3 linked regions of the Homo sapiens genome follow. The protein of the gene in region 2 interacts with the protein of the main gene of each other region in a biochemical or structural test. Each region holds a gene or a part of one and is shown on either strand. Other genes may lie near its edges.

What was found.
Region 1: of the proteins of ANXA7 (region 2) and PRKG1, one has a biochemical effect on the other in vitro, tested with the Homo sapiens proteins (one study listed by BioGRID).
Region 3: the proteins of ANXA7 (region 2) and ALG2 form a complex in vitro, tested with the Homo sapiens proteins (one study listed by BioGRID).

What each region holds. Positions count from the first base shown.
Region 1 is NC_000010.11:51,077,308-51,084,944, forward strand, and holds part of PRKG1 (cGMP-dependent protein kinase 1), read left to right. Parts: intron 1-7,637. UniProt on the Homo sapiens protein: Serine/threonine protein kinase that acts as a key mediator of the nitric oxide (NO)/cGMP signaling pathway. GMP binding activates PRKG1, which phosphorylates serines and threonines on many cellular proteins.
Region 2 is NC_000010.11:73,403,761-73,411,397, forward strand, and holds part of ANXA7 (annexin A7), read right to left. Parts: intron 4,559-7,637; exon of another isoform or gene 4,416-4,558; intron 1-4,415. UniProt on the Homo sapiens protein: Calcium/phospholipid-binding protein which promotes membrane fusion and is involved in exocytosis.
Region 3 is NC_000009.12:99,218,306-99,226,139, forward strand, and holds the start of ALG2 (alpha-1,3/1,6-mannosyltransferase ALG2), read right to left. Parts: upstream 3,638-7,834; 5' UTR 3,590-3,637; coding exon 3,242-3,589; intron 3,211-3,241; exon of another isoform or gene 2,743-3,210; coding exon of another isoform or gene 2,674-2,742; intron 532-2,673; coding exon 1-531. Other genes in the region: SEC61B (protein transport protein Sec61 subunit beta), read left to right, coding at 5,812-5,865. UniProt on the Homo sapiens protein: Mannosyltransferase that operates in the biosynthetic pathway of dolichol-linked oligosaccharides, the glycan precursors employed in protein asparagine (N)-glycosylation.

The sequences.
Region 1 (7,637 bases), about 22 Mb from region 2:
TTTCTTAAACATACATATAGATTATTGTGAGTTTCCAGTTAAAATGAAACTATCTAAATAGACACATTAATTTCCAGTTTACGTTCATGCTAGTTTTTGATTCTCTTTTTTTTAGATGTAGGTAACTGCCCCGCTAATGTTCTGTTCATTTATCTGATATATGCAAATATATCTGTTTAGTTTTTACTTACTAAGGTTGCCTTCTGAGGATTATAATTTTTTTTAGTTCTGGTTTCTTGGTAAATTTGGTCATTTAAAAATAGTATAAAATGTAAATTAACTTAATAACTTGAATCATTTTAACATTTTTGGCTTGGAATTTTTCCTTTAATGTGGGAATTGGAGGGAAGGTTCTGTCAGATTCCAGCACTGAGCCAGGACACTCCTGCTATAACTATGAGGTAGGAGGAGGGTTTTTATTGGTCTCTTTCACAATCTGTATAGATACAATACTTATGTGAAGGAAAGAACTGATGTAGCAAATTGGAATCTGTATTCCACTGCTACCAAATAACTCCTTGAGAATGTAAAACTACTAAACTATATTTGGAAATAAACTGAGCAAATAAACCCTTAAAATGAAAAACAAAACCTAAGCATTCATTATGTGAGATCAGATAGCCTGTTGATTGCCTATATAGAATAGTTCTTATGGACTTAAGTAATTTTATTTCATGAAGTTTCATTCCTGAAATTGATTCTATATCATGTTAGAACATTCAGTCTCTGAAATTTTGATCTAAACCCCTTATCTTTTGAAAATATTCCCAAATCTTTTCCATTTTCATGTCACAGGGTTTCAGTCATTTCAGTTGGATTATATAGACTTGAGTTCCTAAAAGTGGTTAGTGTCTTTGTATTTTTGTAAGCTGTTGCTTTCACTCCATGTTCTATTTTGTTTCCTTTCTTTTTCCTTTGTTGTTGTTGTTGAGACAGAGTCTCACTCTGTCACCCAGGATGGAGTGCAGTGGCACGATCTTGGCTCACTGTAACCTCCGCCTCCAGGGTTCAAGCAACTCTCCCATCGCAGCCTCCTGAGTGGCTGGGATTACAGGCACGTGCCACCAATGCCTGGCTATTTTTTTTTTTTTTTTTTTTTTTTAGTAGAGATGGGGTTTCGCCATTTTGGCCAGGCTGATCTTGAACTCCTGAACTCAGGTTATCAGCCCACCTGGGCCTCCAAAAGTGCTGAGATTACAGATGTGAGCCACCACACCTGGCCCCTGTTTCACTTTTTCATTGCGAAGTACTTTGGAGGAGTTGAGGATAAAAATATTTATTTATATTTATTTATTTATTTATTTATTTATTTATTTATTTATTTATTGAGACGGAGTCTCGCTCTATCGCCCAGGCTGGAGTGCAGTGGTGCCATCTCAGCTCACTGCAAGCTCTGCCTCCCGGGTTCACACCATTCTCTTGCCTCAGCCTCCTGAGTAGCTGGGACTACAGGCGCCAGCCACCACGCCCGGCTAATTTTTTTGTATTTTCAGTAGAGACGGGGTTTCACAGTGTTACCAGGATGGTCTTGATCTCCTGACCTCATGATCCGCCTGCCTTGGCCTCCCAAAATGCTGGGATTACAGGTGTGAGCCACCGCACCCGGCCTATTTTTATTTTTAAGGAGGCATTCATTTTAAGAGATTATTTAATCTTTTAAACTTTATACTGATATATCTCAAGAAAAACAAAATGTTCCTAAAGACTGTATATTAAATTCTGTTGGAAGTTGAGAGAATTCTAGAATTCTAGTGTAATCATAGATGGCATAATATTAAAACATAGATGGCTTGAAAGGTAGAAATTTAATTCCAAAAGTGCCCTACATCTCAGTTCAATACTTCTATGGGATTGCCTGTGACATGCAAAATATTGTAAGGCATTAGAGGTAAGAGCTACATAGGTCCTACCATCCAGGAGTGAACAAGGGGTTAACAATACTGCACAAGTAAATATTCTAGAAAGTAGATAGAGTAAGGTAAGTCACAGGGGAGATAACTAAGAGAGTTGGCAAAATATAATCAAGCCTGTTTGGTTTTATGGTGTCAGAAACTCATGTGGAAGTAGAAGGGTTTAAAGTAAGTATTTGAAGAAGGGCTATGATTTAGGTGAGTGGAAATGAGAGGAAAGAGGGAGGGATAGAGATAGGGATTGGGGAAATACATTCCAAGCCATTAGCAAAGTGACAGCACAGAAAAAGAAAGCAGGGCCCCTCTGGGAATTGGGAGCAACTAGTGGCTGTGCTAAAGTACTGTAGTGGGAACTGTGGAAAAGCAAGTTTAGGCCAGTGAGAATGAGAATCTTGGTTTCTATGATTTGATAAAGTAGGCGAGAGGGCATTCTTTTGGGTTTTAGAATAGCTAAGGCTCATTTGTGTGTGTGTGTGTGTGTGTGTGTTTTACACCAAGGACTAATAGTTACCCACTAATGCAGTTCTGAATGCCAGAATATCAGTTCAGCTTTCTTACCCCCACCATCACAGTCCTGTTAATAGTCGTAACTATATAACTAGGTAAGAGTAGTTAATTGAAGCAAACAGCAGATGATTAGAAGTCTTAAAGAAACCAAGTTCCAAGTTCCTTTTTCCACTCACTTCCAAATGTTCTCATTGAAAGTAATCTAACTTGATGCCACAGACTAGCACTGCAGATTCCTCACATACCTAGGCAAACTGAACATCAATGAGAATTGAACCTGAAGTTGTTTTTCGAAAGTCATCTTTCTTGTTTTTGTGGAGGAGTTAAATTCCAACCTAATGTTATTCTAATAGAGTTTCTAATTTAAGGTTGATTGTTAATTTGACATTACAGTTTATGCAGTAGAAATGAAGTCCCGGGAGCATTTATAAAAATGTATGAGACCAGCGTGCTAAAACCCTATTAGGGTATTTTGAAGCACAGTCAAGTTGCATGCCCCCAAAATGGGTCTTATAATGAAGATACTGGTAAGCTCTTAAATAGAATGGCTCTACTACCTGCCTGAGAATATAAATTACCAGCTTCCTTGCTCTACTGGGTCACATTTCCAAGCTCCTGCTACTTGTTATCTGGATTCCTAATGGGAAAGGGTAGAAGAACACAGATGATGTTTCTATTGTTGCTGTTTGCAGGTTATAAGGCATATGGACACATTTTTTTTTCTGTCTGCCTAGCAATGGAGGGTCTCCATGGTATCCTAGCAACCATATTCGAACACCAGGCTGCTGCTCTTTCTGCCATCTCTACCATAGGTGCTGCAGCCCATCCCAAGAAACTGGGTCTGTTGCTAGCATTCCAGATCCTCTGACTTGAACCTTTCAAGCTCAGAGAACGCAAGACAATGTGATAAATAAGCACATGCTGAAAGCAGCATTTACCAGTATGCTCAACAACTTATTATGCAATCACATCCTTGGCATTTTGTATCCTAATCTGAATTGTTGAGCTGGTACTGTTTGCCACCCCTTCCCCGACAGCCCTTGTCTGCTTCCTCACACTCAGTTCTGACACCGGTTCTGCTTCCCTCTCACCATCTTCTGTAACGACTGTGTTCCTCAGCACTTCCTTAAAATTTATTTTCTGAGAAGTTCAGTATGTGCAACCTGTTTGAACTCTCTAAGGATAATTTTGTTTGTAAGAGCAGAGGAATTTTCTCCCTCCAAAACTGTCCTGTAAATATAAACAATAGCACAAAAACTTCAGCTACACAAAACAGATGTTTAACACAATGTGGAACTAATAGTACACTCTCAAAACTGTCTTATTTCTGAATGAATTTTATAAGCATACTACTCTCCAGCTTTTTTCATTGCTTATAAAATTCATATAAGCATTCCTTCTGGAGGCTCTAGGGGAGACTCCATATCTTGTCTTTTTCAGCTTCTAGAGGCTGCCTATATTTTAAGCGTGAAATTTATAAGCAATGAAAAAAGCTGGAGAGTAGAGTGAGAAGAAGAAATGCATATCGAGGGAACAAGAAAGGGCGAAACGAGATGGGTATTGGTAAAACTATGCCATATTTGCAAGGAAGTTGGAAAATAGTGATAGGCTTTGTGTGCAAGTAAATAGGTGACAAGACTGGAAAAGAGCTTGCAAGTAAGATAGTACTTTATGGATGAAGACTGCCATAGAGAAGAGACACCCAAATTAGAGTATATCGAAGGCTTGCCTTCTTAGGGAGCTATACTGAAGATAGTTTCCCATTAGACCAGTGCTTGTTTTGAATGCATTGTATTGTCCCTTTGAAATGCTCCTTAATTTGACATCATTGAGGACTTGGTGGTGTTTGTGCAGCCAACAGTGCAGAGGACAAGAATAAGGGCAACAACTCAGTGCATCCTGCTTCTGAATGAAAGCATCAAGAATTACACTGCTCATCATCATCAGATTGGGTAACATTTATGGAGCACTAACTCTGTGCCAGGCACTGCTCCTGTGCTTTATATAGATTGTCTCTTTCATTGATTGAATGATTGATTGATTGATTGAGACAGGTTCTTTCTGTCTTATTGCCCAGGCTGGAGTGCAGTGACACAGCCATAGCTCACTGCAGCTTCAAACTCCTGGGCTCAAGTGATCCTCTTGCCTCAGCCTCCAGAGTAGCCAAGATTATAGGCACATAGCACCACACCTGGATAATTTTTAATTTTTTTCTGTAGAGACAGGGTCTCAGTTGCACAGGCTGGTCTTGAACTTCTGGCCTCAAATGATTCTCCAGCATCTGGGCCTCCAAAGAAAGTGCTGGGAATACATATGTAAGCCACCGCACCCCACCTGATCATCTTTTTTTTAGGACAAAAACAACCCTATGAGGAAGATTCTGGATTATCCCAATTTCACAGCATGAGAAAAAGAACTCTGGGGCGCAGAGAAGTGAAGCAACTTGCCCACAGTCACACTAGGTTGAGCCTGAATTTGAGCTCCAGAGCTTTTCTCCTTAGCCACTAGGCTCTCTTACTGCCCAAAGGGTCATGGGGATTAGGTAGCTGCAGGAAAACTTTATGAATAACATATAGGTCATTCTCTGGGGTGTATCTGTTCACCAATAATTAAATAGGAAGCAGAAGGACTCTGGGACTAGTGGAAGAAATAATGTAGGACGGCGGTTCCCAAACTTTCCTGCGCATTAGAATCACATGGGGAACATAAAAATCCAATTCCTAGATTGTACCACAAACCAATTAAAATCAGAATGTCCGGGTGTTGGAAGCTACATATCAGTAATTTTTGATGATTCTCCATGTAACTTTAACGTGTAGCAAAATTTGATAACCACTCTAATAGGAAGATGACAAGAGGAGTGTGTGTGTTTGTTGTGTGTGTACATTTGTGTGTGATATTAAACAAAAGACCAGGATAAAGTGTTCATCTAAAGAGTTGAATGTCTCTATTGGCTAAAACCTTTAAGCACTAGGGGCCTGCGAAAGCATAGCTGGATTTTTTTTTTTGCCAAATTGTACGTGTAGACAAATTGTACGTGTAGTTTAGTTGATGCCTTCTTGTTTATTCTCCTAAACAAGTGATCATTTCCCTACCTAGCCCATTGGTTCTCAAACATAGCTGTATGTTACAATCACCTAGGGAGCTTTAAAACATACATTTGCTGGGCACCACCTCCAGAGCCTATGATTTAATTGCTCTGGGGTAGACCTGAGGTATAGGTATATTATTTTTACTCCCAAAGTGATTATAATATTCAGCCAGGGTTGAGAAACCTCTGCTATGACCCATTCATTGTTGATTGTTACAGACTACTTGAATTCCTATTCTTTGGGGAAGCACCTTTCTTGTTTCTTTTTGAGCAACCCAAGTCCCTGGCTTGCAGTGGAGCCAGGCAGCTTCAGCTCCCCAATCTCCCTAGCATCTGAACCTATCAGCATCACTTTAATCTCTGGGGTTACCTGTTAAGGACCTGGGGCACACAAAAGTGGCAGCAGCTCTGTTCAGTGGGTAAGTTTGTTTCCCCTTTCCTGCCAGCCAGGGTTCCTGGCCACTTTCAAATGTGACACACATTAGGATCAGCTTTCATCCCAAGTTTTTTGTTTGTTTGTTTTGTTTTTAAATTCTTGCTGAGGGCAGCTGCCTCTGTGGCCAGATAGTTTCTTTGGGTCCCAGCTCCTGCTATCCAATGCTAAGTTGAAGGTGAAACAATGATGAGCGCCTCTTGGAAGAGCAGTCCTGGGCTTGTAGCGTCTCTCTTGGTATGTGATGTCTCTGCAGCCAGCTACAGTTTTTTTTTTTTTTCCTACAGATATTTTATCCTTTTAAGGCAAACAGCGTGAGCTCAGGCTGAGGAGTACTTTCCGAGGAGACTTCAGAGAAAGCAGAACTAGCACATCAACCTTTCAGCCCCCTTTCCAGGAGGCTTGGTTTAAGTGGACAGATCTGGGCATTGCTGGCAGTTGAGAGGTCGGAGACGACACCTGCAATAAAAGATCTTGGTGTGTCCCTCATGAAGACTTCCAGGGGAAATGAGAATTCCTAAACCCTGTGGTCAGACCTCACTGCTGCCCCTATTGCCAGCTCTGTGTGTCTTTCCTGCCCTCTGTCCCCTTAGATCCTTGTTACAAAGTCCTCAAGGTGTTGCTAATGGTCTCTGCTAGGAGCCTATTTACATTTGTAATTTAATCATTACCTTCTCAGGTGAGGATCAGCCAATATAGCACTTTATATAAGCAATGAAAATAGCTAATATAATTGCAAATACTTTTTGATAAAAATAATCTTAGAATCGGAGTCAGCAAGGAGCTTTTCTGTCTTTTCCCCACTCCTAAAATATGAAAATGTATTCAGCTGACAGATAGTATGTTAAAACAGAATAGATGTAATAAGGCTACCCGGAGGATTGGGGACATTAATTATGCAGGGAAGTTAATCATAAGTAAAGTAAACACTTTCATTATGAATCCAGCTTCATGGAGTGCATTTGGTTATTGCGCGTAATTGGGGAGGGATAAGAGGAATTAGAAACAATGAAAAACATGACCAAAAACATGTGTTTAATTATTATGACTTAGCAGTTAGAAGCAGAATGATAGGCAGAAGTTGGTGGTAGGACACTGGGAAAATATCTGTGTCTTTGCATTCTTTTATTCCAACCTATGAAAGGATGGGAGTTCATATAAAAAGAAGAAATTAGTGACAATTTACTACCAAGATATACTACTTTCACCTGCATCAAAAATAAAATAATGTTAATTACTTTTGCCTTTCTAAAGATCATAAATGTAAATTAAACTTCAGATTTGCTTTAAGATAGATGTAATTTAATTCACTTCTACATAGAGGTGGAGAGAAAATAATGTAAGCTATTTACTTATGCTTTGGCTGGGCATAAAACATGAGTAAATACCTTACATTATTTTTATGTGATTATAATATGCATCAAAAAACAGATCTAATGTTATTGACCTTCTAATATTTAGTGTCATTTTCTCACTTTTAGACCCTACCTACTGTTAAGAAGTAACATTGTACTTCTTTGAACATGAGGTAATTATAGTATCATCCAGTCAGTTTAATTTGGTTAATTGGATTGAATGTCAATGATGACAAATACACTCTAGTTAAGCAGAATACTTGGACTATTTTCAGAAACAATTGTATTATGGTAATATCAAGCTTTCACCAGATCTTGGCCAAGGAATAAGGAGATAATGT
Region 2 (7,637 bases):
CACCAGCACTGCCAACAGAATTTTCCATCTAACATCCTGGATTTCCAGCTGTGTGAATATGGGCAGTTACTTAGCTTCTCAAAGGAAGTTACTTAGCCTTTTTAGGCCTTCATTTCTTCATCTATAAAATGGGACGTGAACGTACCTACTTAAGGATGTTGTTGTAAGAATTAAGTAAAAGAACAAAGGCAAAGCATTTAGCAGTGCCTGCAATAAAGTAAGTCCTCAGTAAGTGTTAACTGCTATGATCATAGAGAACTGTGATAGATAATACAAGAATATTAAAAAAATAATTAGCATGAAGTTTGGCTTTTATTAATTCATTATAACACTTTCAGTACATTTACTTTCTCAATTTTATTAGACTTAGAATAATTTTAAAATTAGAATGCTTTCTGATGGAAAAAGAAAGTAGGGTGGTAGAGTGTGGTTAGTCTGAGATTAAGGAGGCATTCATATATTATCTATTCTGTGATAATAATGGTGATCAAAAGTTGATAGTCTTCTGATCAGCAAACATAACACTGGAAATATCTTTTAAAAACTGCAGTCTGTACCAGAAAGTTTGAAAGTTATGTTCTTCAAAAGGTGCTCATTTCCATTTGGAAAAGTAAACAATAACCTGCACATCAAGTGATGTTAAGACATTACTATTTTTTTGGTGTGATAATGGTACTATGATTTTCATCAAGTATTCTGATCTTTTAGAGATACACATTAAGTATTTACAAACAAAACGATACGATGTCAGGGATTATGCCAAAATAATATGCAGGAATATTCTATATAATATAGTGCAGGAATTTAGACATAATAAGCAGTCAGGAGTTGATAACTGCTCACGCTGGGTGATGAGTACATGGGGATTCATTACACTCTCCTGTCCATTGTTGAAAAGATGGCTCATGTAAAATAAATGGAGCTAGTGTGGATAAAGACAAATATCCCTATATATATATATATATATATCTTTTGCATTTGAAGAAAACACTATTAACCTAAAGCAAATGTAAATAAACAGAGAAAAAAACAAACATTCAAAAGAATACCCTCTTAGCCTGATCAAATCTAAAACACGGCCAGGCGCAGTAGTTCACGCCTGTAATCTGAGCACTTTGGAAGCCAACGCAGGTGGATCACTTGAGGTCAGAGACCAGCCTGACCAACATGGTGAAACCCTGTCTCTATTAAAAATACAAAAATTAGGGCCGGGCGCGGTGGCTCACGCCTGTAATCCCAACACTTTGGGAGGCTGAGGAGATCACAAGGTCAGGACATTGAGGCCATCCACGCTAACACAATGAAACCCCATCTCTATAAAAAATCCAAAAAATTAGCCGGGTGTGGTGGCATGTGCCTGTAGTCCCAGCTACTTGGAAGGCTGAGGCAGGAGAACCCCTTGAACCCAGGAGGTGGAGGTTGCAGTGAGCCAAGATTGCACCACTGCACTCCAGCCTGGGCCACAGAGCAATACTGTCTCAAAAAAAAAAAAAAAAGGCTGGGTGCAGTGGCCCAGGCCTGTAATACACCCAGCACTTTGGGAGGCTGAGGTGGGCGGATCAACTGAGGTCAGGAGTTCGAGACCAGCCTGGCCAACATGGTGAAACCCTGTCTCTACTAAAAATACAAAAATTAGCCAGGCGTGGTGGCATGTGCCTGTAAGCCCAGCTACTCAGGAGGCTGAGGCAGAATTGCTTGAACCCAGGAGGCAGAGGTTGCAGTGAGCCAAGATCACACCACTGCACTCCAGCCTGGGTGATAGGGCAAAACTCCATTTCAACAACAACAAAAAAATCTAAAATACTATTAGTGATCAGATATAATATACCTGGCAAATACATCTATATAAAGTCAGTAATCACTTTTTTGGCATCTACAAGAAAACATTGCTACAAGTGGAGAGTGAATGATCAAAGGTTTAAACCAGGCTTTTAAAGGTGCTAGACACAGATAGGCAAGAAAGTAGAACAATGTTATTTGCAAGGCAAAAGGTGAGACGTAACTGTGAGACGGATGATCACCAAAATAGACTAAGGAGCAGATTAAGACAGAAGTCAATCAGGAGGCTTTCTGTATGTGTATAATAAAATACTCGTCATTCTCCACCACACCACTCTTAACATCCTTTATCTGTCAATAGCACCACTACTTAAATTACCTAATACTCCAGTATAGTAAGAAACCCAGTATTTTTCTCTTCTTTTTTTTTTTTGAGACAGAGTTTCGCTCTTGTCACCCCAGCTGGAGTGCAGTGGTGCAATCTCGGCTCACTGCAGCTTCCACCTCCTGGGTTCAAGCAATTCTCCTGCCTCAGCCTCCTGAGTAACTGGGATTACAGGCGCCCACCACCACACCCGGCTAATTTATTGTATTTTAGTAGAGACAGGGTTTCGTCATGTTGGCCAGGCTGGTCTCGAACTCCTGACCTCAGGTGATCTGGCCGCCTCGGCCTCCCAAGGTGCTGGGATCGCAGGCATGAGCCACTGCGCCCGGCCAAAACCAGTGTTTTTCTATCCATCCTTTGAAATGCCTCTTCTGTAATTTCTGTTCTCATGGTCATATACTTAGACCAAGTTTCATCACTTGATGCCTGTCTTACTAAAACTCCTCCTCTGTTTATATTCTTGCTTATACTCTGTCACCCTCCCAATTTTCTCAGACACTGTCACTAGCTAAACTTTCCTAAAATGCTGCTCTTTCAGCAAATTGCTCTTCAGCTCAAAAATCATCAATGACTACTGCTGGAGTATCAAATGAAAATTAATTGGCCTGATATACAGGTCTCCTTAGTACTGGCTCCAATTATTATTATTATACATATATTTTTGAGATGGTTTCTTGCTCTATCGCCCAGGCTGGAGTGCAGTAGTGTGACATCAGCTCACTGTAGCCTCGAATTCCTGGGCTCAGATGATCCTCTCATCTCAGTCTCCTGAAGAGCTAAGACTACAGGTGCACACAACCATACCTGGCTAATTTTTTGTATTTTTAGTAAAGACGGGGTTTCGCCATGCTGCCCAGGCTGGTCTTGAACTCCTGGGTTCAAGAGATCCACCCGCCTCAGCCTCCCAAAGTGCTAGGATTACAGGCATGAGCCACCACACCCACCCTCTATTTATCTATTTAACTCATTTCTTACCAACACCTAACCCTCAACGTGAAATCTCTATCACTTGAACCATTCCCAGCATTCCTTTGCTTAAGCCATTCTTATCATTAACTGACTTGGCCCTCAAGCCTGGGCTTACTCACCCCTCCTATCTAGCTCAAGTCTCCTCTCTTCCTTCTTTGAACAACGTAGTTGACTAAAATAGTGTTTCTCAATGTTTTCTTTTTGAGACAGTCTTGCTCTGTTGCTCAGGCTGGAATGCAGTGGCACAATCTCGGGTCACTGCAGCCTCCACCTCCTGGGTTCAAGCGATTCTCCTCCTTTAGCATTCCAAGTAGCTGAGACTACAGGTGCGCACTACCACACCTGCTTAATTTTTGCATTTTTAATGGAGACGGAGTTTCACCATGTTGGCCAGGCTGGTCACAAACTCCTGACCCCAAGTGATCTGCCTGCCTCAGCCTCCCAAAGTGCTGGGATTACAGGCGTGAGCCACTGTACCTGGCCTCAAACTTTAATGTGTATATGAATCCCTAGGGATCGTGTTAAAATAGAGATTTTAATTCAGTAGCTCCAGGATGGGGCCTGAGATTCTGCATTTCTAAAGCTTTCAGGTGATATGGATTCTGCAGGTCTGTGATTCACACTCTGATACCAGAATACTTTGGGATTTCTGGATCTACACCTAATTTTCTAAATTTGTAAATATATGTTTTGGCACTTTTCATCAATACAGCTGTAAATGATTCATATTTCTTTTATATCAGATGCCAAATAAACCCAACTCAAGTCAACATTTATGAAAGTCCACTGTGTAATGAGCACTGTCCTAGGTGCTGATAGAAAGATTAAGTATTCAGCCATTTGAGTACACAGTATAGGAAAATGAGATAATATAGTGTCCCTTATGACAGGAACACAGGATAGAAGCTAAAAATGTGCTGAATTGAGAATAAACGGACATAGATTGAATCAAGGCTATAAGTCAATAAGAAACATAAAATGATATGAAAACTGACCCAGTCAATTATAAAATAATCATTTGGGATCCCAAAGGGCTGGATATAAAAACAGGGACAGGCTGAATTTTTTTGCTTTTTTCTTTTCTAAGCCTGGGTTTGTATAAAGAGTAAAGGAGGGGCAAAAGCTCTAAAGAATGGTCAGATAGGCCAGGCGCAGTGGCTCACACCTATAATCCCAAAACTCTGGGAGGCCAAGGTGGGAGGACTGCTTGAGCCAAGGAGTTAAAGACCATGCTGGGCAACATAGTAAGACCTCGTCCCTACAAAAATATTTTAAAAATTACCCAGTGCAGCGGCGCCCACCTGTAGTCCAAACTATTCAGGAAGCTGAGGTGGGAGAATTGCTTGAGGCCAGGAGGTCAAGGCGGCAGTGAGTCGTGTTTGCATCATTGCACTCCAGTTGAAAGAAAAGACAAGACAAGACAAGGAAAAAGAAAAAAAAAAAGAAAGAAAAAGAAAAGTAGATAGACCAAGGGCAAAAGGGTCAGGGTCAAAATAAAGGAAAAAAAAATCTGAAAATAATTTATGAGATAAATTAATAGTAATTTGAAAGGCAATATGCAGTTACAGTACCAAAGACATCATAAGCAATTTAAATTTCTAAGTTTCAAGAAATTGTTCCAGTGACAAGACCTATATCTAAATTCTTTAGCTACTATCTTAAATCTTACCTTTAAGAGCCTGGAGGAATTATGTCAACAAAAATGAAAATAAGGCAAAGATTATCTGTATATAATAAAAATTAAAGCTATTTTAAGAAAGTGAATTTTGGTACATTTTGAAAAATAATTATATAAAAGACTAGAATGCAATTCCATTTCCAGGAATGTACCTTATAGAAATACTTGCACAAGGACAAAATTATATATGTACAAGGCTATTCACTGCAGCATTTTTGTAATAGGAAAAGGTTAAAAACCATGTGAATGTCCATCAATAAGGGACAGGTGTCATCCCAGGGATGCTGGAATGATTTAACATATGCAAGTCAATAAATGTGATGTATCACATAAACAGAATTAAAAACAAAAACCATATGATCTCAACAGATGCAGAAAAAGCATTCAACAAAATCCAGCATCCTTTACAATAAAGAACTCAACAAATGAGGCATAGAAAGGACCTAACTCAAAATAATAAAAGCCATATATGACGACAAAGCCAACATCATACTGAATGGGGAAAAGTTGAAAGCATTCCCCCTGAGAACAGGAACAAGACAAGGACATCCACTTTCACCACTCCTATTCGACATAGTTCTGGAAGTATTAGCCAGAGGGAAAGTAGGGGAAAGCAATAAAGTGTATCCAAATTGGAAAAGAGGAAGTCAAACTATCACTGTTTGCAGATATTATGACTATATACCAAGGAAATCCTAAAGACTCCAACAGACTCTTAGATTTGATAAATGAAATCGGTAAAGTCTCAGGTTACAAAATCAATGTACACAAATCAGTAGCACTGCTATATACCAAAAACGTCCAAGCTGAGAATCAAATCAAGAGCTCAATCCCTTTTATAATAGCTGCAAAAATAAAAAATAAATAGAATACCTAGGAATATGCTTCACCAAGGAGATGACAGATCTCTACAAGGAGAACTACAAAATACTGCTGAAAGAAATCACAGATGACATAAATGGAAACTCATCCCATGCTCATGGATTGAAAGAATCAATATTGTGAAAATGACCATACTGCCCAAAGCAATCTACAGATTCAATGCGATTCCCATCAAAATACCAAGATCATTTTTCACAGAATTAGAAAAAACAATCCTAAAATTAATATGGAACAAAAAACAGCCTGAATAGCCAAAGCAATTCTAAGCAAAAAGACAAATCTGGAGACATCACATTACCAGACTTCAAATACACTACAAGCCTATAGCTACCACAACAGCATGGTACTGGTTTAAAAGTAGGCACATAGACCAATGGAACAAAATAGAGAACTCAGAAATAAAGCCAAATACATACAGCCAACTGCTCTTTGACAAAGCACACAAAAACAAAAATTGGGGAATGGACATCCTATTCAATAAATGATGCTGGGAAAACTGGCAAGCCACATGAAGAATGAAACTGGATCCCTAACTATCATCCAATGCAAAAATCAACTCAAGTTGATAAAAGATTTAAATATAAGACCTGAAACTATAAAAATTCTAGAACATTGGAAACAGTCTTCTAAACACTGGCCTAGGCAAAAAATTCATGACTAAGACCCCAAAAACAAACGCAACAAAAACAAAAATAAATAGATGGGACCTAATTAAACTAAAAAGCTTCGGCACAGCAAAACAAATAATCAACAGAGTAAACAGACCACCCACAGAATGGGAGAAAATATTTGCAAACTATGCATCCAACAAAGGACTAGTATCCAGAATCTACAAGGAACTCAAATCACAAAGAAAAAAAAACAATTGCATTAAAAACTGAGCAAAGGACATGAATAGACATTTCTCAAAAGATACACAAATGGCCAAAAAACATGAAATAATCATTAATAATTCAACATCATTAATCATCAGGGAAATGCAAATTAACCACAATGAGATACCACCGTGCTCCTACAGGAATGGTTATTCTTAAAAAGTCAAAAAATGGGCCGGGCGCGGTAGCCCCCATCTGTAATCCCAGCACTTTGGGAGGCCCAGACGGGCGATCACCTGAGGTTGGGAGTTTGAAACCAGCCTGACCAACATGGAGAAACCCGTCTCTACCAAAAATAACAAAATTAGCTGGGCATGGTGGCGTGTGACTGTAATCCCAGCTACTTGGGAGGCTGAGTCAGGAGAATTGCTTGAATCCGGGAGGCGGAGGTTGGGGTGAGCTGAGATCACGCCATTGCACTCCAGCCTGGCAACGAGAGCGAGACTCCATCTCAAAAAAAAAAAAAAAAAAAGTCAAAAAACAATAGATGTTGGTGTGGATGTGGGGAAAAGAGACCGCTTATTACACTACTATACAGCCTCTACAGAAAACAGTATGGAGACTCCTTGAAGAGCTAAAAAAGATCTACCATTCAATCCAGAAATTCCACTGCTGGGTATCTACCCAAAGGAAAGAAAGTCATTATATGAAAAAGACTTTTGCACATGTATATTTATAGCAGCACAACTCACAACTGCAAAGATGTGGAACCAATCTAAGTGCCCATCAACTGAGTGGATAAAGAAAATGTGGTATATATAAACCATGGAATACTACTCAGCCATTAAAAGGAACAAAATAATGTCTTTTGCAGCAACTTGGATGAAGCTGGAGGCCATTTTTCTAAGTGAAGTAATACAGGGGTGGAAAACCAAAAGCCGTATGTTCTCACTGTGTAAGTGGAAGCTAAGCTATGAGTATGCAAAGACATAGGTATGAAGTGATATAATGGACTTTAGAGACTCAGAAAGGGGAGGGTGAAAGGGGGCTAGGAATCAAAAACTACACATTAGGTACAATGTACATTACTTGGGTGACTAAAATCTCAGAATTCACCACCATATAATTC
Region 3 (7,834 bases), on a different chromosome or scaffold from region 2:
AAGGTCGGACTGTTGGACCATTTTCTTCAATTCCTGATAATGTTCCACATTCTCCAGGACTCTCTCGTCATAACCACCTGCCACGATCAGATGAACCCTCTCCCAATCTTGGGATGTCAATCTTCCACGCAGCTGTACTAGGGCTTCCAGTGCCAAAGTCAGATTTTTCTTCCTTTCGTATCTGTTGATGGAGAGCAGCAGGAATTTTTTCCCCTTGGGGACTAGGTCATCCAGCTTTTCAGGAACAACTGAGTCAAAGCTGGTGACATTTAGAGATGGATAGAGGACATCAGGGTCTATGTGAGACAGGGACTTGAATGTTTCCTTAAAAACAGCAGCTGTGAACTGGCTGTTGACTAAGATGCAGTCTGCCATGCCTGTGGTGTATTCCTCTATCCAGTCAATTGGGGCCCTGTATAGTCGTTTAAGAAAAGAATCTCTCTTGGTGAGAAGCAGATCTGGGAAGTGACAGTAAAATAGGATCTTCTTCCGCCGTCTAGCCAGCCTGAACACTGGGATACAGGCAGACACCTAGCCAAAGCAAAAATCAACAGCGGATAAAGTGGTCAACTCAACTTCAACCAAACCAAAAACACAGACACCCACCCCGTCTGGCTAGTCTGTGGGCTCCTCATGGGCAATGTCTGATTCTGTTTTATTCCCCAAGACTCTCACCCAGTACCATATGCCTGGTGTACAGAAGGCTACAGACGTTTGCTAGATGTGTGCTAAACATTTAAAGCTTCAAGTCCAGTGATTTCCTCTTGTATAGTGCTGTCTAATAGAAATCTAGTAATATTAAAAATGTTTTTAAGGGTGAAATTAATTTTAACATATTATTTACCGAAAACATTATCATTTCAAAATGTAACCAATACTAAACAGTATTAATGAGATACTTTATATATACATATATTTCACATTACATCTTCAAAATCGGTTTGTATTTTAACTTTAGCACATCTCAGTTTAGACTAGCCACATTTCAAGTGCTCAACAGCCACATGTGGCTAGTGGCTACCATACTGAACAGTGCCGCTCTAGGATCTTTCTCCTTCTAAGGAACTGAATGAATGAACTATAGTAGTTTAGAGCACAAGCTCTAGATTCAAGACTGCCAGGGTTTGAATCTCAGCTCTACTAACTGGCCACGATCAAGTAATTTATCCCACTCTGGGCCTTAGTTTCCTCTTCTGTAACATGGTGACAAATTATAGTTCAAAAAACCCATATACTTTTTGTGATTATTAAATGCACTGATATATGCAAAACACATGGAGTTTAGCACACAGTATGTGCTCAATAAATATTAAAGCTAGTCATCATTGAGCATGAACTACATGCTGGCATTACTACAGACTTTCTTGTTGGGTAATCTTTACAAGTCATTTTAGTCTCAGCTAACTTAAAACCTGAAGAAGGTAACTTTAGGGATAATGTGCAATTTATTCAAAGCCACTTAATTAAAGCAGTAGATACGGAACTTGAATCCAAGATGCCTATTTCCAAGCCAATAATTTTTCCTCTACCCACTATAGTCTCAGCTGCCTCATGTCTACTGACACATGCAGGATGTTTGGTAAATGTCCACGTTACTTAAAAAGAAAGCTTCCATGCAAGCAAGGATGATCAAAAGTAACTCAGGAGTCATAATTAAAGAAACACAAATACAAATGTGATGCCATCTGCACCTATCAGTTTGGCAAAGTTTAAAATGGTTAATATCCAAGGCGGACAAAAGCATGGAGTAAGAGGCTCTATCATACATTGTGGGGGAGTAAAGTGACACAGCCTCCTTGGTAGGCAAACTTGGCAGTAGCTATTGATATTTAAAATGAACAACTCTTAGACCCACCAACTTTAGGAATTTCCTCAAACGACATATTTGCAGAAGTACAAAAATATTTTAAAAAAAAGAAGTAAAAGGATGTTCATTACAACACTGATCTATTCACAAAAAACTAGTCACAACATTAGTGTCCTTTAAGGAGAATGTTTAATTATGACACACTTAAACAAAAGTGGATTTTCTGGCCACTATGAAGAATGAAGTGAATCTCTAATATTGATACATAAGAATGTCCCGGCTGGGCGCAGTGGCTCATGCCTGTAATCCCAGCACTTTGGGAGGCCGAGGTGGGCGGATCGCGAGGTCAGGAGTTCGAGACCAGCCTGGCCAACATGGTGAAACCCCATCTCTACTAAAAATAGAAAAAATTAGCCGGGCGTGGGGCGCGCACCTGTACTCCCAGCTACTCTGGAGGCGGAGGTTGCAGTGAGCCGAGATCGCGCCACTGCACTCCAGCCTGGGAGACAGAGCAAGACTCCGTTTCAAAATAAATAAATAAATAAATAAATTTTTGCTGAAAAAGATGCCTAATAGTAGGTATGTCATAATACCAATTATGTACCAATAAGAAGATATAGATATACCTATGAAAAGACACAGGCTGGTGTCACCACAACTTCTGAAAAAATACAAGAGAAACTTAACGGTGGCTATCTTCAGGGAGTAGAATAGGACGGGGCTTTTAGGTTACATCCTTCTATACTACTAAATTTTTAATCGAGTAAATGTTACTTTTTAAAGTCATCTTTTTTAGGATGGGGAAAAATGCACGAAGGAAAGAGTCAAGAATAGCTACAGGGCAGATCCAGGTGGACATTATTTACCAAGGTAAAAAGCTTGAACTTTTCTCCAAAAACCAATGGGGAGCCATGTACAAGTTTTAATAGGGGCATGATATATTCAGCTTGGCGTTTTTAACACATGACACTGCTGAGGACGGTGTGGCCTGGCTCCGAACACAAGGACAGTGGGATGCAAATGGCCTGAAAGGAGAGTCAACAAAAATAACAGGTAAGCGGGAAGACAACACGCGAGTTACTCATTAGTAAAAGGTGACTGAAGCTGACTTCTAATACCAGCGTTTCTCAGAGCCCCAAAGACTATCTACCTCGGAATCACCCTATGACCCAGTTAAAATGCAGATGTCTGGGCCCCACCTCAGGGCACCTGGATGAAAACTTCCTGGAGGATGGAACCCCAGCAATCTGCAACTTTAAATGGGCCCACACTAAAGTTAGAGAACCACAGGCTCGCTCACAACCCTGACTTCTCCATGTCAGTTCCGATCTTTGCGAACCGCAGACAGGGAAGGTCTTCTCTCAGGGGTCATGCCCGCGGCCGCCCTCCACGGCGAGGTCCGCACTCGCGCAGCCGGCCCCGCGGCCGCCTCACCTGGTCGCACACTACCACGTCGAACTCCTCGTCGGCGAGGAACAGCACGTAGAGCGCCAGGAAAACCATGCGCACGTAGGCGCAGACGGCGGCGCCGCGGCCGCCCCAGCCCAGGCCTCGCGGCAGCCAGTCCCCGGCACAGCGCACCGGTAGCTCGCGGCTCTCGGCGAAACAGTGGCCCGGGTCGTAGTGCGCTGTCCAGATCTTCACGCTACACCCGCGCGCCTGCAGCGCCAGCGCCGCGTCCAACACCAGCCGCTCAGCGCCGCCCACGCCCAGGTCTGGGTGGAGGAACAGCACCGACGGCTTGGGAACCGAGTCCCGTTCCCGGCCCTGCTCCTCCGCCATGGCCCTGGAGCCGCAACTGCACCCCGCACCCTGATGGGGGTCTTCTGCGCAAGCTCCGCGCTCGTAGCTCCCAGCTGGCCACTGCGGGCCGACCCCGCCCTGCCGTACGTGCGTCAGTTAGGCCACATCAGCGCAAATCTGTGAGGGTCTAGTAACTGCCTGAGAAAATATCTTGTCTGACCCCGGTTATATTTTTCCTTCGGTAGGGATTGGACTTTCTGAAGGACGTTGTGATCCAAAGGAAGGAGGCCGGAGGTCTCTACTTCCCATACAGCAGGTAACTAAGTTGTCTGTAGCAGACTGTCTACAGGCATATCGTGAGACGACCCAGGCGTCCCTGGGGTCAGAGAGGACCTTGCCTGCAAGTCCGGGGGCGGGGCCTGAGTCAGTCTCGCCAGCTGCCGGTCTTTCGGGGGCTCCGTAACTTTCTATCCGTCCGCGTCAGCGCCTTGCCACCCTCATCTCCAATATGGTATGGCGGCCCTTCCATGATCCCCGCCTCTCCCAGAAGCCCTGACTCCTCCTGCTTTGCGCCGTGCTTTTCCTCTGTAGCTCCCTTGCTTCCCCCAGCCTCGGGTGTGGGTGTCTAGGCCGGGGTTCTGGGGCAGGCCTGCCGCGCTCACCCGTCTGTCTGCTTGTCTCCCTCTACAGCCTGGTCCGACCCCCAGTGGCACTAACGTGGGATCCTCAGGGCGCTCTCCCAGCAAAGCAGTGGCCGCCCGGGCGGCGGGATCCACTGTCCGGCAGAGGTAAGGAACCCTGCAGTTCGTTCGCTTCCAGACTCGGAGATAGGACCCAGAACCTCGCTGATTCTGGGGTGGAGACCCTAGCATGTGAAGATTGACAAAGGCAAAATGAGCTTCTAGTGACGTGGCCGTGGGAGTAGTTAAAGGCCTTTTGGGAGGAAGGCGACATTTTTTTTCTCGTTGCTCAGTTTAGGGCACTACTCTTAAAAAAGGAAAGTTAACAAACTGGAATAGAGTCAGAGATAACTTTGAGAAAACCGATGTCATTAAACTGGTGTCTCTGGACCTGAGGTTTGCACTCACATTTCCATCTGGCGGCCCCATAAGCAATCTGTCCTACAGATAACTCGTCCTACACAAAACTTAGTCTCTTTTCAGCTCAGCTCTCTCACTCTCAATTATATCTCCTTACTTCCATATGGCACTGTTGTACACTCATTTACTCAGAGCCAGAAACGTCAGCGTCATCTTGGATTTTTCTTATGCTCTTTCTCTCTCTAGTCATATGCCAGACTTTAAACTCTGCTTGAAAGCTTTCTCATAAGCTCTTTCCTTTTCCCTTTCTACTGCTTTGCATTTGCTACTTAACCCTTTTCTTCAGGCTGTTTGCTTTCCAGTCCATCGTTCGCTCTGCTGTTACTCTTCTGCGTAGTTTCTGTTACTTGTTGCTGAACTAAAAAAAACAAACAAACAAAAAAAAAAAACCGGGGGGATACCAAAGCTCTTAGTGGTCATTTCAGCCTAACCTTTCTTTTTCCTTTTTTTTTTTTTGGGATGGAATCTCACTCTGTCGCCCAGGCTGGAGTGCAGTGGCACGATCTCGGCTCACTACAGCCTTTGCCTCCAGAGTTCAAGCAATTCTCCTGCCTCAGCCTCCTGAGTAGCTGAGACTGCAGGCACGTGCCACCACACCCAGCTAATTTTTTGTATTTTTAGTAGAGACGGGGTTTCACCATGTTAGCCAGGATGGTCTCGATCTCCTGACCTTGTGATCCTCCGTCTCTGCCTCCAAAAGTGCTGGAATTACAGGCGTGAGCCACTGCGCCCGGCCTTCAGCCTAATCTTTCTTTGCTGTCCTATGATCCAGCACTCGTGAACCCATTACTGTTTTCTGAATTCACAAACTTTCTCCCTCATCTCAAGGCAAATTTCTACTTATTTTCCAAGACTAAGCTCAGGGGTTATTTCCTCTTGAGGCCTTCTCTGTCTGTAAGCAGCAGTAGCTACTAGTTTTCCCTTTTGCCCCCATAGCATTTTGTTCATATCATTATAAGACCAGTGATGTTTCCATATTTATCTCCTTCATTAGACTTTAACAGAGAACCTGCTCAAGTCATTTCTATCCCAGGTACCCACCATAAGGCATGACACAATAAATAATGACTGAAGGAAGGAATCAAGCAACCAAGTTGTTTTGGGATTTTTGAAGGAACTAGTGGGGTTTTATCTAGGGAGGAAAAAATCTTGAACACATGCATGGAAACTTCTGAAGGATGTGAAGAGGGATGTGACATTTTCTGGCTGCAACAGGTAAATCTAAAACTGATGATTTGAACTTACATGAAATATTTCACATCAGAACAAAGACATTCTAATAGAACTGGCAGAAATGTAAAATTATCCTGAATGATTTTGAGTTCCCTGTCATTGGGATGTTCATGAGGAGTGTATCAGGCTGTGGTTTAACTTATATGGGCTTTGAGTGCTGTCCCCTTCCCACCCTGGGTTTTAGAGATTTTTCGTGCAGGAATGGAAAACATGTCCTGTGGGTGCGGTTCCTTGGGAATGGTTCTGCTTAATGAGAATTGGTAATACTGTGGCAGGGAAGTTTGGCCATCCGAGAATTTGTAAAGAAATAAAAGAAAAAGCACATATTTATCAAATGTACATATGATAATGAAATTATTTATTTAATAGTAAAAATGAAATAACTGATGCACAAGTGAAATGGAGAACTGAAACATTTGAAGACAGACAGATGCAGTTTTTAAAGTCGTGGGTGTTGGTGTCATCTTTTAGGATTCAGTGTGATAGAGCTAGTGTAACAAGAAAGACCATGGTTGTATGTATTGAGAGACCTGACAGTGTTTCCTTCTAGAATGGTAGTGATTAAGTATCATTTCATGAGTATAATGTAATAAGTATTGGTTGTTTAAGAATATCTTTGCTTTATAAGTCTGAGAAAACATTGGAAGTTAATGATTCATAATAGTGCTTTGGATTATGTTGTCTGTAGAGCTGCCTTCTCCATGCTTGATGAGGTGATAGATACTACCTTGGAGGAGAAATGTTATTAAATTTAAGCTCAGGCCAGAGTTGGTGTTCTTGCTCTCCTAAATACAATATAAAAGGAACTTGCTGTGAGGAGCAATAATGCTTTATAAACTGTAAAGGTGTGAAGTGCCACATAGTGTTCTAGCAGGATTAATGGGAATCAGGGATATTAAGATGGCGGAATAGCCACCAATGTATAGACATCAAGGTATTGAGGTCTACTACATGCCAAATGCTGTTTCATCTCCGAAGATGGGTCTGTGAACAAGGTAGGCAAGGTTTGTACTCATGAACCTTATATTCCAGTGTGGGAGATCAAACGCAAGGAAAATAAGACAATGTAATTTCAGGCAATAAGGGCTATGAAGATAAATAAAGCTGGGTGGGGGATAGAGAGTGGTGGGGATAGGGCAAAGGTAGGTAGTTGTTTTAGATAGGGTGTTCACAGTAGGTAATACCTGAGTAGATACCTGAAAGAAGCAAGAGAGCAAATCACACAATGGTTTGGGGACGAATAGGCCTCCTAGGCAAAAGGAGTGGGTAAGTATGAAGATTCTGAGGTCGATGAGGTTGGCTTTGAGGAGCAACAGAAGCACCATGTTAGAACCAAGTGTGTAACTGGTTAGTTTTGAAAACCATTGTGTTGAGGTATAGAAGGGAGAGACAGTTACACAGTGGCCAGAAAGAAAGGGTAAAATAGCCCCCAAATACAAATTTGAGAGATTCAATGTGTTTTATTAACCTTTACCTAGCTACCCCTAGGGAATGGGAAGTATTTTGAGTACACTTTAGTATTTCTAGGGGCTCTGGTTTTCAAATACTCTTCTATGTTCCATGCGCCAGCAGAAATAAGAAATCTTAAGAGAAGCCAGCCTGACTCCTCTGGGGCTCCTGTAATTCCAGGAAACTTTGAAGTCAGGAACTGGAGGTGTGATATTGTGGAAATAGTAGGAAGTGCATGCGTCCAAGTCCTGGCTCAGTCCATGACTATAATATGTTCACACTGGGTTTATCTTCTAGCTTAAAATCCTTTTCAATGAACAAGGAGGAAGATTTCAGCTGCATACCCCACAGATGGAATGACATATATCTGTGTGTGTGAAACCTTTTCTAAGGGCATGAATCTTTCTGTAAATCCCTGTACAGTTATGTTTTGCCATTTACAATCAGTTTTCCCATAGGAATGGTCACACAATGAAGTTTTAAGTTCCCAGGCTACCACGTA